3 separate regions of the Homo sapiens genome follow, and regions 1 and 3 are each linked to region 2. The links come from fine-mapping of genetic effects on gene expression. A gene starts in region 2. Each other region holds a variant in brackets. All regions are shown on one strand. Distances are from middle to middle. Region 1 has its middle 60 kb from the start of LINC01874. Region 2 holds the start of ALKAL2 (ALK and LTK ligand 2). Region 3 overlaps LOC105373324 (a long non-coding RNA gene).

What was found. PIP is the estimated chance that this variant, and not a neighbour inherited with it, causes the effect.
Region 1: its variant is the best candidate, but not a certain one, in a credible set for the expression of ALKAL2 in whole blood (INTERVAL, PIP 0.71).
Region 3: its variant is the best candidate, but not a certain one, in a credible set for the expression of ALKAL2 in NK cells (Gilchrist 2021, PIP 0.77).

Annotation. Positions count from the first base shown.
Region 1 is chr2:430,713-434,949 of GRCh38, reverse strand. No RefSeq gene overlaps it. Among named protein-coding and RNA genes, the nearest start is that of LINC01874, 60 kb to the left of the region's middle. The variant A/G (reference allele first, on the strand shown) is at 2,658.
Region 2 is chr2:286,218-290,454 of GRCh38, reverse strand. It overlaps ALKAL2 (ALK and LTK ligand 2), which reads left to right and starts at 2,364. Exons shown (of 6, transcript NM_001002919.3): 1 at 2,364-2,442; 2 at 2,563-2,872; 3 at 4,112-4,165. The coding sequence starts at 2,620. LOC101927262 (a long non-coding RNA gene) reads right to left here. Exons shown (of 3, transcript XR_007085917.1): 1 at 3,831-4,237. RefSeq lists a silencer at 2,800-2,849.
Region 3 is chr2:175,648-179,884 of GRCh38, reverse strand. It overlaps LOC105373324 (a long non-coding RNA gene), which reads left to right. Exons shown (of 4, transcript XR_922689.3): 2 at 4,117-4,237. Among named protein-coding and RNA genes, the nearest start is that of SH3YL1, 86 kb to the left of the region's middle. The variant T/G (reference allele first, on the strand shown) is at 1,948.

The DNA of each region.
Region 1 (4,237 bases), 140 kb before region 2:
GAAAGAAGAAAGAAAGAAAGAAAGAAAGAAAGAAGAAAGAGAAAGAGAAAGAAGAAGAAAGAAAGAAAGAAAGAGAAAGAAAGAAAGGAAGGAAGTAAGGAAAGGAAGGAAAGGAAGGAGAGGAAGGAAAGGAAGAAAGGAATAAAGAAAAAAGGAAAAAGAAAGAGAAAGAAAGAAAGAAAAAGAAAGAAAGAGAAAAAGAAAGAAGAAAGAAAGAAAGAGAGAAAGGAAGGAAGGAAGGGATTAAAAATGGTCAAATATATGAACTGCTAGGTGTAACACTTTTGTTTGGAAAGTGCAAATTGAAGTCATGCAATAACATTTGAATAAAGTTTACTGAATTTCAGTGTCTTCAAAATTGAAATGTATCACTTTCCAAGTATTAGTTGTTGCTTTACAAATAATTTCAAGAAAATCATCATCATCACTGAGCTTTTCATAAGTATCAACTGAAAATGGCCTTTGATGTAGAGCAGGGTGCAGAAAGGTGAGTGGCCATGGGTGCCAAGCACTGCAGGAATCCCATATGGGCCCAGGAGAGAGGGGCCCAGCTTCTGCAGCAGACCAGCCAACTCTGCTGCTGGAACTCTGAAGGAACAAAGGGGAGTTAAGAGGTCGTTGGAAAAGAGACAGAACGTAAATGGTAAAGCCACGCTGTGCTTTTGTTTTTAAGGAAATCTTGAGCATGAAACAGGAAAGATGAGAGAAGTGAACCTAGTCCAAGAACGATTGTTTGTGCCTTTAGAAAGGAAGCAAGGATGCAGCGAAGGAGGAAGGGAATATGTGGTTGTGGACCCACAAACAACAAACAAACAAACCACCAACACACTTGCAAAATCGTGAATGACTCTTGGTATCAATATAACCACAAGATAATTTTTAGAAAACAAAATCAGATGTTAAGCATTCCTTTAAGAAGGCCAAGGAAAGAATAATTGCCAATTTATCTGTGGAGCAAGAAAACATGGTAAATTTAAAATAGTAAATTAAGAATGACATTCTTCAAAAAGTGTATACTTTTAATTTGCTACTGATACATGATAATACTACAGTAACAAATAACAACAATTATTAAACAATTAACTATTGCTAAATGCTTCTGCAGTCCCTCCTTTGAGGGGCCAAGGTGGTAAGATCACTTGAGGCCAGGAGTTCAAGACCTTATCTCTACCAAGAAAAAAAAGATAGAATTAAACTATATACAAAAGTACAGATGAAATAACGTGATGTCTGGAGTGGGTACAATTGTGTTCCCCAAAAAGATATATTGAAGACCTACCTCCGTTACCTGTGAATGTGAATGTATTTAGAAATAGGCTTTGCAGGTGTAATAAAGTTCAGATGAGGTCCTCTGGGTCAGGGTGGGCCTTAATTCCAGCATGACTCTCCAGTTGTATGTGATAAAAACAGGGAATTTGGACTCAGGTGCAGGGGATGCAGGGAGCCCCACTGTGTGGAGGCTGAGGTGGGGACTGGAGGGCATGTCTACAAGTTGGGGAGCTCCGAGGATGGCTGGCAGCCACTAGGAGCTGGGCAGGGCCTGGAACAGGTTCTCACTCAAAGCCTGTGGAAGGAACCAACCCTGCCAACACCTTGATCTCAGACTTCAGGCCACCAGCACTGAGGGGGAATGAATTTCTGTTGTTTTAGCCACCTCGTCTGCGGGGATTCCTCATGCAGACCTAGGAGATTGATAGAATGCCTGACATTTCTTCTCTAGTAAATGAACGGAGAATTACGGGTGAAGCTGGAGGAGCTATGGATCCATAGCTGTAAAAACGGGGTGACGGGTTCCAGGGAATAGTGTGTGCAACTTATCATTTCATGTTTTCTAATATAAGCAAATAAGCATGTATATTTCTTATTTTCATGGACAAATGTTTCCAATACTTTACATGCTTTTCTTCACCTTGCTTTTTCCCTTAACATATGCTAGAGATATTTCTCACTCATTTTTGTAACTGCATATTTTTATGTTGTGTGAAAATGCCATATCGCTTCCTCTTCAATCTCACACCCAGGACAGAGCCTGGGACAGCCGGGCTGTTTTCTAGCTTGCTTACTTGCAATTCTATTGCAAATTGAGCCCCATACGTCTTCTAGTATTTGTGCTCAGAAGGCTAAATCCCTGGAGGTAGGATTGCTTTTTCTAGAGAAAAATGATATAATATTTCGCCAGATATTGCAAAACTTCCCACTCACACCAGTTTAGCATTTTGCATTCCCACCAGCTTGTAAAAGAACGCCCTGTCTTATAGTCAACAGAAGAGGCTACTTTTTTAAAGAAATGCTTTTATTTTAGTTTAGTTTTAATTGGTGTTTTTCTTGTAATGAATGAAGTTCAGTATTTTTAAAAAAGCATTTCTTTATCTATGAACAGTCTGTTCATATACTTAATGTATTTTTATATGCTTATTGGTCTTTCTGTTCTGTGGTTTTAGAAGTTCTTAATGTAGATGGACTGCCAACCCTTCGTGTGTGATATAACTTGTCAGTCAATATTTTCCATTTATCATTAGCTTATGCTTTTTACCATGTAGATATTTTTCCATATAATGAAACCTACCACATTTCCTCTATTGCCTCTGGATTTTGAGTCATGGGGAATAAAATAATAGATATATGTTTCTGTATAGGGGTTCATCTCCTGCATTTCA[A/G]TATGATCCATTTGGAAATTATCTTAGGATACACTGTGAGGAATGGATCCAGTTTTATCTTTTCACTAAACACCGTTCCTTATACTCACATGGGAAGGGGCTAGGATTCTCCACGTTCTGAAGAGCTTCTATGCACAGTCTGGTGAGTCCAAGTGTGGCACATGAACATCTCCTGGAGGCTGGCTGGATGTGCAGAACCTCAGAGCCCACCCAGACCTGCTGAACCAGAGTCCAAATGTTAACAAAATACTCAGGAGGTTCCTACATTCGAGAAGATTCAAGTTCGAGAAGGACTAATATTCAAAAGGTAGTTTTTCTTTTGGCTTTCTCCCCAAAATAATAGGCAGATTAAAAAATGAATACTGCCTTCCATTAGCCTCGCCATACTAATACAACACATTTACACCTTTTAAATTAGGGACCTCATGTATTGCATGATGATCGGGTCTTAATGTTTGTATGAAAATCATGGAAGGTGATAAAGATGCCCCTCAGCCTAAGGCTTAGCAAACCCAACAATGACTCCCCTCTCGAATGTGACTTAGACTTGTTTATACCATAATTACTCATTTTTGTTTAAGTTGCCATTTTTGAACTTTATAAACACACTATATTTTATATAGTCTTAAGTGATAACGTTTCACTCAATATTATGTTTCTAACATTTATCCAAGTCATGAATAACTATACTCCATTCTTTTTCACTAATGCATACTACTATACTGTGTAAATGTATTTAAAATATTTATATATTCTCTTTTTATATCCTGAGATGTCCCGATATCTTTCACCGGTATAAATCATTACAAATTATACTTCTAAAAGCAATTCTTTTTATTTATATTTTTCATTTCAAAAGTGTGCTAGAATTTTTCTCAGGTGTGTATTTAGGAATGGAAACGTAGGGTAAGAGAAGGTAAGCAAGCTCAGGTGATCATGCACATTGATTTTTGATCGTGCAAAGGGCCACATGGATTCATACTCCCAGAGTAGTGTGGCAGTGCGGCCCCCAGCCAGCGTCATGCATGGGTGACCTTCATCAGATCAGGGCTTGTGAATTGACATCTATGCAGTCAAATGTACTGACTTTGGTTATCTGATTACTTCACGTTATGCTTATAAAAATTGTTTGATATTTTTAGATTTCAAAATGGTTACTTTTTATGTAATGATTCTATCCTCTTGAATTAGTTACAAATAATTCACCTTTGTGGAACAAAAGACCCAACTTGGAGCATCTTAAATATGTGGAGACTTTTTTTCCCCAAGTAATAGGAAGTCAAGAGATAGACAGTTGGTGGCACTGCTTCAGTCTTCGCTGTGAGGAGACGGATCTTACGGTCACTTTTATGAGCTGGGCTACGTTCTCATGGAGCATTGAGACCCACAGAGTCATGAGAATCAGCGGCCGCCCGAGCCCTCCTCGCCCATTGTGGTTCCTGGAGCCGTCCTCGTAGGATGTGTGTGTGAGGACGTCCTGCCCCACTCTGTTCTTTTAGGTGGTCAGAGAATTTAAGAGAAAAACAGGAAGCTGTTGTTTCTCATGAGATGAAGCCTGTGTGATCCACTAACAATTATAT
Region 2 (4,237 bases):
CCAAGCTATTTTACAACAGTAAAATCTTCTCATGGTTCTATTTTTCTGGGAACTGCGGTGTCCACCAGCTGCGAGGTGGGCCCGGCAAGCAGGACCGGGAGCAGGGCCGGGGAGGGCCGGTTCCATCGCCAGGCGTCGCTCTTGCCCGTGGAACTCAAGTGTCTTCTTGGACATGGGAAGGGGAAAGAGAGAAACGAAAAATGCCTCCTTTTATGTGCCTAAGGTCTGTTTGACATAAAATTTTACTTTTTCCTGAGTGTATTTTAGCAGAAATGTTCACATTTCAGTCATGTAGCTTGCAAAAAGAAAAAGAAAAGCCTCGCTGTGAAATCAAACCATCTGTTTTTCAAGGGAGCGGAGAGAACGCAGATCCCAAGGGTGTGGGGCGGGGTCCGGAACCGGCACATTTCATATCTTCTCTCTCCACGCTGCCTCCCCGCCCAGCTCTGCCGGACACTTTCTCCTCCTGAGGAGACAGACCCCGTGCAGGAAGAGAGAAAGGACGCGGGGACGGGCGCAGACGGGGCCTCTCCGGGAGCTGGGGGATCGGGGCGCGGAGCCTTCCGCCCGCACCGCCCGCGCTCACGTGCGCCTGGGCCAGCACCTTCCCGCCGCGGTCCTGCGACTGCCCCGATCATGGTGCAGGCCTTTAATTCTCGCCCACTCCGCCTCTCTGATTGCACTCAGAACACCTTTCCCAAACAGATCGCGGACTTGGAAGACGTCCAGCTCTTGCCCAGAAAGCACCAATCGAATGGGAAAGTGCGCAACTGATTGATAATACATTTTACAAGAATAAAATAAAAGAGGCAAATTGCTGAACTTTCACAGATGTGCCGGGCTTCGGCCAAAGAGCCAAACTTTCTTAAAGACGAGTCCGGGAGGCAAGTGCCCTCCTGCGGGCGTTCCCTGCCGGGGCGCGAGGGACCCGCGGGCCGAGGGTCCAGCGCAGAGGAGCGCGCAGATGGCGCGGTCCTTGCCGGGGAGGGACCTTCGCTCGTCCTCTCGCAGGGGGTCTGGGGAGGGGGTGCAGGTCCTGCCCCTCCTCGGGTGGTCAGCTGTGCGCACCTCGGGGGCCGTGGAGAGTCCTCACCCGCCCATCTCCTGCCTCCTGGCCGCCCCGCCTCGGGGACCAGGGCTTGGGGACCCGAACCTGGGGACTGGGCTCGGGCGGGGCAGACCCCTCGAGGTCCGGAGAGCGGATCCCTCCAAAACGGATGGACTCTAATTGACTTATTAAATGTCGAAGCAATCAGGCAGCTCCCTTTTTAATAGCCCAAGATCTACATTTAGACAAAAACAGAACCGAGTTCCTGGTAAAGGCGTTTCTTCTCATCCTGTCACAAGTGACAGGAACGGAGGGAAACAGACTGGGGGAGGGGCGGGGGGAGGAGAACAGGGGGAAGAGGAGGAGACGGGGAGTGGGGGAAGGTGGGGCAGGAGAGGAGGAGACGGGAGATGGGGAAGGTGGGGAGGGAAGGGGCGCGGGAGACGGGGCGCGGGCGAGGGGGAGACGCGGTGGAGATGCGGGTGGGGGGACCGGGCGGGGGCGGGGGCGGAGTTGAGGGGGAGCGGGAGACGGGGGGAGGCGAGAGCGAGGTGAGGCGGGGGGACTGACGAAGATCCGCATGGGGGTACTAACACTTCAGCGGCTTCTAATTAAAGCCCCGCTCGGAGCCCTTGGGGACCCGCCTGACGTCGGCGGGCGCGGGGATAAGAAGCTCCCCGAGGTCTGAGGCGGGACTCGGAGCCGGCGCACCCCAGGTCGGCCGTGGGTCCAGCGCTCGGAGCGGCCGAGTCCCCGCGTCCCGTGCGCTCCGCCCGCCGGGCATGGAGTAGTGGCGCAGCTCGGGGCGCGGGGACAGACGTGCGCACAGACGGCGACGACTCCGGCGGCTCCAGGTAACCGGCCCGGCCACGACGCGCAGGTGGCTCCCGGGTGGCGCCGGGCAGGTGCGGGAGGGCGCCATGGCCGGGAGGTGGAGGGGCTTCCAGCACGTGGCGCGGCCGGGGCCAGCGCGAGGGTCCGCACCCGGCCTCCTCCGTGGGCTTCGGGGACTCGGCGCTCGCCGGCGACCACCGCGCAAAGGCGACGCTGGAAACTTGAGCGCGGCCGCCGGGCCCGGCGCGCGGCGCCGCCTTCTTGGAGAGCGGTAGGCGCGGGAGCGCGGCCCCTCCGAGGTCCGCCCGCGGCCGGGGAGCTGCCTGGCACCCGCGGCTTCCAAAGGGGAAAGAAAGTTGCGCCCGCGCCAGGCGCAGCGCGCTCGGCGGACGCGGCCTTTCGGGCGAAAGTTAGGAGGGGCCGGGCTGGCGGGCGGGCGGGTTCCGGGGGCTCCTTTCCGCACCAGCGGCGGTCGCTCCCCGTGGGCGGGACCTCGGGCGTGATCGTCGAGGAGACCGCGGCTCCCTCACCTGCCGGCTTGTTCCTCGGGGTCCGCGGAGGTGAGGGGCCGGGTCCAGCGCCAGCGGCTCCTCCCGCCTCCCCTCCCCTCCCCCGCCCCGCGCTCCGTCCCCCTCCCCCGCTGACTTTCTCTCCGGCCCCCCGCGCCCCTTCTCTCGCAGCGAGCCCAGCTCTCGGCGCGTGTCGGAGTCTCCCAGCCCCGCGGCCCCGAGCGCACGATGCGCGGACCCGGGCACCCCCTCCTCCTGGGGCTGCTGCTGGTGCTGGGGGCGGCGGGGCGCGGCCGGGGGGGCGCGGAGCCCCGGGAGCCGGCGGACGGACAGGCGCTGCTGCGGCTGGTGGTGGAACTCGTCCAGGAGCTGCGGAAGCACCACTCGGCGGAGCACAAGGGCCTGCAGCTCCTCGGGCGGGACTGCGCCCTGGGCCGCGCGGAGGCGGCGGGGCTGGGGCCTTCGCCGGAGCAGCGAGTGGGTGAGTGGGGCCGAGCGCGCCCGAGGGCCGGGGCTGCTGGGAAATAGAATTGTCTTTGAGAAACACGTTTCAAAAAGAGACATCAATTTTGACCACTGAACAGCAGGATTCCTTTTTTTTTTTTTTTTTTTTTTAAGAAAAAGAAAATAGCAGCAATAGGTCCGCGCATGAGGCCTGGCGGAGAAGCGCCTGGTCTCCTTCTGGCGCGCGTGAGCTGCGGCGCGGGTCGGTGGTTTCCACACTAAACTGTCAACCGTCACTTTGGAAATGGAAGCATTTCCAGCAAAGCTTTCCCAACTGAAAAGGAAGCATCCAGGCTCCTTCATGGCCCTGCCCAGAGTGGTGGCCCACGGGGAATTTCCCAGGAAAGCATGAAAGCGTCTAATGCTTTTGTGACACAATCAGGTCAAACATGATAAGGTCAGTTTTATCCCGGCTGCGTCAAGTTAGGAGTGAATGAAGACTCACTAGGGGGTCAGCTGTGGATGCGAATGCTCCTCTTCAGAGGGCGTGACTTCACACACAGTCGGGGCTCAGCCAGGAGCCCTGAACGGGGGAGTGAAGATGGAGAGGGCTGTAAATACGCAAAAACAAAGCTGAACTCAAGAAGAACGCCCTTGCAGGGTTCTCCCCACCCACTGTGTGCGGAGAACCCTGGTGGAAGAAGTTTGCTTGGCAGAGTCTTTCCCTGGGATTCTTACCCTACAAACCAGGTTCATGCATATTCCCACTAATTTACACCTCACTGAAACGTGGTCTTTTAATCCTTACTCTAAATATGTATCTAGATAAAGTAATGTTCTGTAACCCATTTTTTTGTTTGAAGGGTCAGGTTTTCTCTAAAAACTTTGAAATGTTGTGGGATTTGATTCCCAAGGTCCTTAAAACTAAAGTGCCTAAAAGTGACTTATTCACTGGAAGTTAAATGTTTAAAAGAAAAAAAAAACAGTTTTCTTACCTCTGTAACTTCGTGGTCTCTGTCTGCATCCCACGGGGTAGACAGCCGACATAATCCTGGAGCTTCAGGAGCAGTTACTGTTATTTCAAGGAAAATAAATGTCCCTGATATTGAGTCTTCTTCACTGTCGTGTGTTGCAATCCAGGGCCCCAGTCTTTTTTATTTTGTGCAAAGCAACTTGGCTAATATGGAGCTCCAATTTTCTTCAACATTCACTTAAGATCACATTTTTAAAAAATGCGTCCTTCAGGTAATATAATACTTTCTTTTCCCTGAAACAGAAATTGTTCCTCGAGATCTGAGGATGAAGGACAAGTTTCTAAAACACCTTACAGGTAAGTTTTCTCCTCGTTCCTCACGTCTCCCAGAGCTCCTTTTCACCTGTGAGTCTTCATGATCTGTTTCTT
Region 3 (4,237 bases), 110 kb after region 2:
AAGGAGAACAATTGTTTCTCAAGATGGGGTGGTAATTTAGGTTACATCTTCTCCAATGGGAAGCAGTGAGTATTCAGAAATAGTGGAATAATTTGCACTTTTTTTAAAAAAAGTATATTATCTATTTTCCTTTAAATATGCAGCAGAAGTTTACTATTATACAACTAAATTGTGTGGGTTCTCTAATTGCCCACCTAGATTAATATGTGGTTTATTTCACCTTGATGTTTTTAAAGAAAAGCCTGTGCTGTGTGAGGTTTAGAGCACGCACCATAAATAAGGAGGCTTGAGATGGCTGTGCCTTCCGGAAATGCCATGACCCAGGACCTACGCAGGGCCCACTGCTCTGAATCTTAACGCTTCTGAAATGGCTGTGCCTCCTGGAAATGCCATGACCCAGGACCTACGCAGGGCCCACTGCTCTGAACCTTAACGCTTCTGAAATGGCTGTGCCTCCTGGAAATGCCATGACCCAGGACCTACGCAGGGCCCACTGCTCTGAACCTTAATGCTTCTGAAATGGCTGTGCCTCCCCGGAAATGCCATGACCCAGGACCTACGCAGGGCCCACTGCTCTGAATCTTAACACTTCTTAAATGGCTGTACCTCCTGGAAATGCCATGACCCAGGACCTACCCAAGGCCCACTGCTCTGAACCTTAACACTTCTGAAATGGCTGTGCCTCCCCGGAAATGCCATACCCCAGGACCTACGCAGGGCCCACTGCTCTGAACCTTAACACTTCTGAAACGGCTGTGCCTCCTGGAAATGCCATGACCCAGGACCTACGCAGGGCCCACTGCTCTGAACCTTAACACTTCTGAAACGGCTGGATGTCTCTGCATGAGCTGTGCTTACCCAGTTGTTCCATTTATTCTTATATTTTACAAGCATTTAGTAAATTCTTGAGCTAGGCCCTGGGGACTACCAAAGGAATAAGATATCTGTTATTTTTATTTTATTTTATTTCAATAGTTCTGGGGAACAGGTGGTTTTGGTTACTTGCGTAGGTTCTTTAGTGATGGTTTCTGAGATTTTGGTGCACCCATCACCCAAACAGTGTACACTGTACCCAATGTGTAGTCTCTTATCCCTCACCCCCTCTCACCTTTCCCCCTAAGTCTCCAAAGTCCATTTTATCATTCTTATGCCTTCGAATCCTCATAGCTTAGGTCCCACCTATAAGTGAGAACATATAGTATTTGCTTTTCCATTTCTGAGTTACTTCACTAGAATAATGGTCTGCAACTCCATCCAGGTTGCTGCAAATGCCATTATTTTTTTACTTTTTATGGCTGAGTAGTATTCCATGGTGTGTGTGTGTGTGTGTGTGTGTGTGTGTGTGTGTATACATATATATATATAATATATATAATATTTTATTTATTCACTCGTTGGTTGATGGGCATTTAGTCTGGTTCCATATTTTTGTAATTGTGAATTTTGCTGCTATAAACATGTGTGTGCAAGAAGACATCTGTTCTTAAATTGCTCTCAATTTAGTTAGGAATACTTAAAATGGCTACACTGCAGGATAGAAAGTGTGCACAAATGATCACCTTTTAAATAGATGCATGAGAAGAAAGAACTCTGAAACGCAGTGATAAGTATGGTTCAGTGGAGCCCTCAGGACCTATCTCAGTGTGTTCCTCTAGCATCTCTTCTAGTTTCCTCATGCACTCTACTTTCTAGCTGCACCTGCATTATGCTTAGCACCTGTCCTATTCCCTCCTTTACTCTGAACCCCAGGTTCCCCTGTGTTTTCATGAGCACCTGTCCTATTCCCTCCTGCACTCTGCTCTCTAGCTGCCCCTGTGTTCTCCTTAGCCCCTGACCTACTCCCTTCTGCACTCTGCTCTCCAGCTCCACCTGCATGTTCCTTAGCACCTGGCCTATTCCCTCTTGCACTCTGTGTTCCAGCTCCACCTGCATGTTCCTTAGCACCTG[T/G]CCTATTTCCTCCTTCACTCTGCTCTCCAGCAGCACCTGTGCACCCACAGGTGGCTTTCCAGCTGTGCCTCCTGCCTATGCCCTGAGGAGCTCAGCACCCAAGAGTGAATGGATCAAATTACTGACTCCTTTTTGGTGTCGATCATCATTCTAGGCTCTTCATACACAACGTAAAAGGCAACACATTGCTACCTTTATTCAACTAGAAGGAAATTAAACTTCATAAAAGTTATACCCAGAGACCTAGTGCATGGAAAAGGGGTTTGTGCAATTCTTTCCACTGCTGCTTTTTATACTCAGTGCCCTATTCCTCCCTGAAAGAAATTCTGTTCCAAAATGCTGCAGTCACTGAGATTCTTCACTTTCTTTTCTCTCTCTCTTATTTATTTGGCCTATTTTTTATTTTTTTATTTTTTTGAGACAGAGTCTCATTCTGTCACCCAGGCTGGAATGTGGTGGCTCAATCTTGGCTCACTGCAACCTCCACCTTCCAGGTTCAAGCAATTCTGCCTGAGCCTCCCAAGCAGCTGGTACTGCAGGCAAGCACCACTACGCCAAGCTAATTTTTGTATTTTTAGCAGAGATGGTTTCACTGTGTTTCCCAAGCTGCTCTCAAACTCCTGACATCAAGTGATCCACCTGCCTCAACCTCCCAAAGTGCTGGGATTACAGACATGAGCTACCATGCCCAACCTTCACTTTCTTCTCTGAGTCAGAGATCTCTAGCAAGATAGCCTTTTCACAATTTTTATTGCAATAGAAGTATTTGAGACCTTTGTCAGGTTAAACTGTTGTGAGTTAAAGGTATGTCTGTTTTTCTGAGATACACTGAATTTAGGAATGTATGACTCAGTAATGAAAACTTGATCTGGCATCACCCTAGGCATTTGAGCTCCCAGACAGAGAAGGATCTGTTTTTCCAATCACTGACAAAGCCTGGCATGATCATGGTTCGCAGGAATGCAGCACCCCAAGAGGACCCTAGCAATTGGGAGAATTTTGTTTATATGACACTAAGCCCCAAATGACCTTAAATTCTAAATAAAAGTTCCATGGGCAATTTGTATAAGGGCCTTGTTTTTAAAGAAAATAAATTATATGACAGGTTTGTTATATATATATTACAAACTATACTGGTGAACATTTTACTCAACATTTAAAAATCTTTAATTAAGACCTTTCAGTACATAAAGCTTACATAACAAAGTCTAGCAAAAGTCTATAAAATCTAAACACATTTCTAAAAGAAAGGGTGGTGCCACGAAAGTTTACATGCTGAGGCTTTCAGGGTGGCTATGCTGTGTTGGATGTGGGTGGTGTTCTCTCTCTCGTGGTTTTGCTTCTTATGTGACAGTTCCGGCTCACGAGAGCTCTCTGGGCCCGTCTGTTGGCTTGCATCCTGTGGCGTTTGGCAAGTGAGATCTGTTTAATACAAAGTGTCAATAAAGCCAAGGTTATGATAGTTAAAAATAATCGATACTAATTCCCTAGAAATTTTGTCTTTTTTACCAAGCCACTGGTGCAATGTGGAGTCACTACATTTTATGCAAGAAGAATAACACCCTCACTCCACAGTCTGAACCAGAACTGACACTCGGTGGTGATTCCCCCTTTATTCTAGGAGGTGTTAACATTAGCTATGGCAATGTAAAACCGATGTTTTTGGAAGCAGTAGGGGCAGGGAATGGAAAATCCTCTGCAGCTGTCAACATGGGGAGTGAGACAATGCTCGTGTTGACTTGTGGAACTGGATGAGAATCTACTGCTCCTTCTCTAGTGACAGTCTCTGTCATTTGCATAGAAGGTTAAACGCAGGGAGGGCACGGGGGTTCCATGTAAACTTCAGTAAGTTGCATAAACAGAGGCGGCGATGTTTTATGTCTCTGATCTTTTCCAAGGACATCTGGCCTCTGGGTTGCAGCGCAATGCTCACTAACAGAAGCTGACTCATTTGTGTTATGTCTCTGATCTTTTCCAAGGACATCTGGCCCCTGGGTTGCAGCGTGATGCTCACTAACAGAAGCTGACTCAGTTGTGTTTTCTGGTTTTGGGGAATATCTTTAATCACCACATGAATGTTTATAAACTGTTGGGGCTAAACATGAAACTCACTCTTCAGGTGCCGTCTCCACCTAGCCACCGTGTACATTTTCTTTCTCTCTCTTGCAGCTGTTCTCTTCCTACGGACTGAATGAAAAATAAAAGGAAGTCATTTCTGCATGTGTCACAGAGGCATCCTTTGGTTCTAAAGGAAGCTAAGTTGGATTCCACAAGCCCATGGTCCTTATAG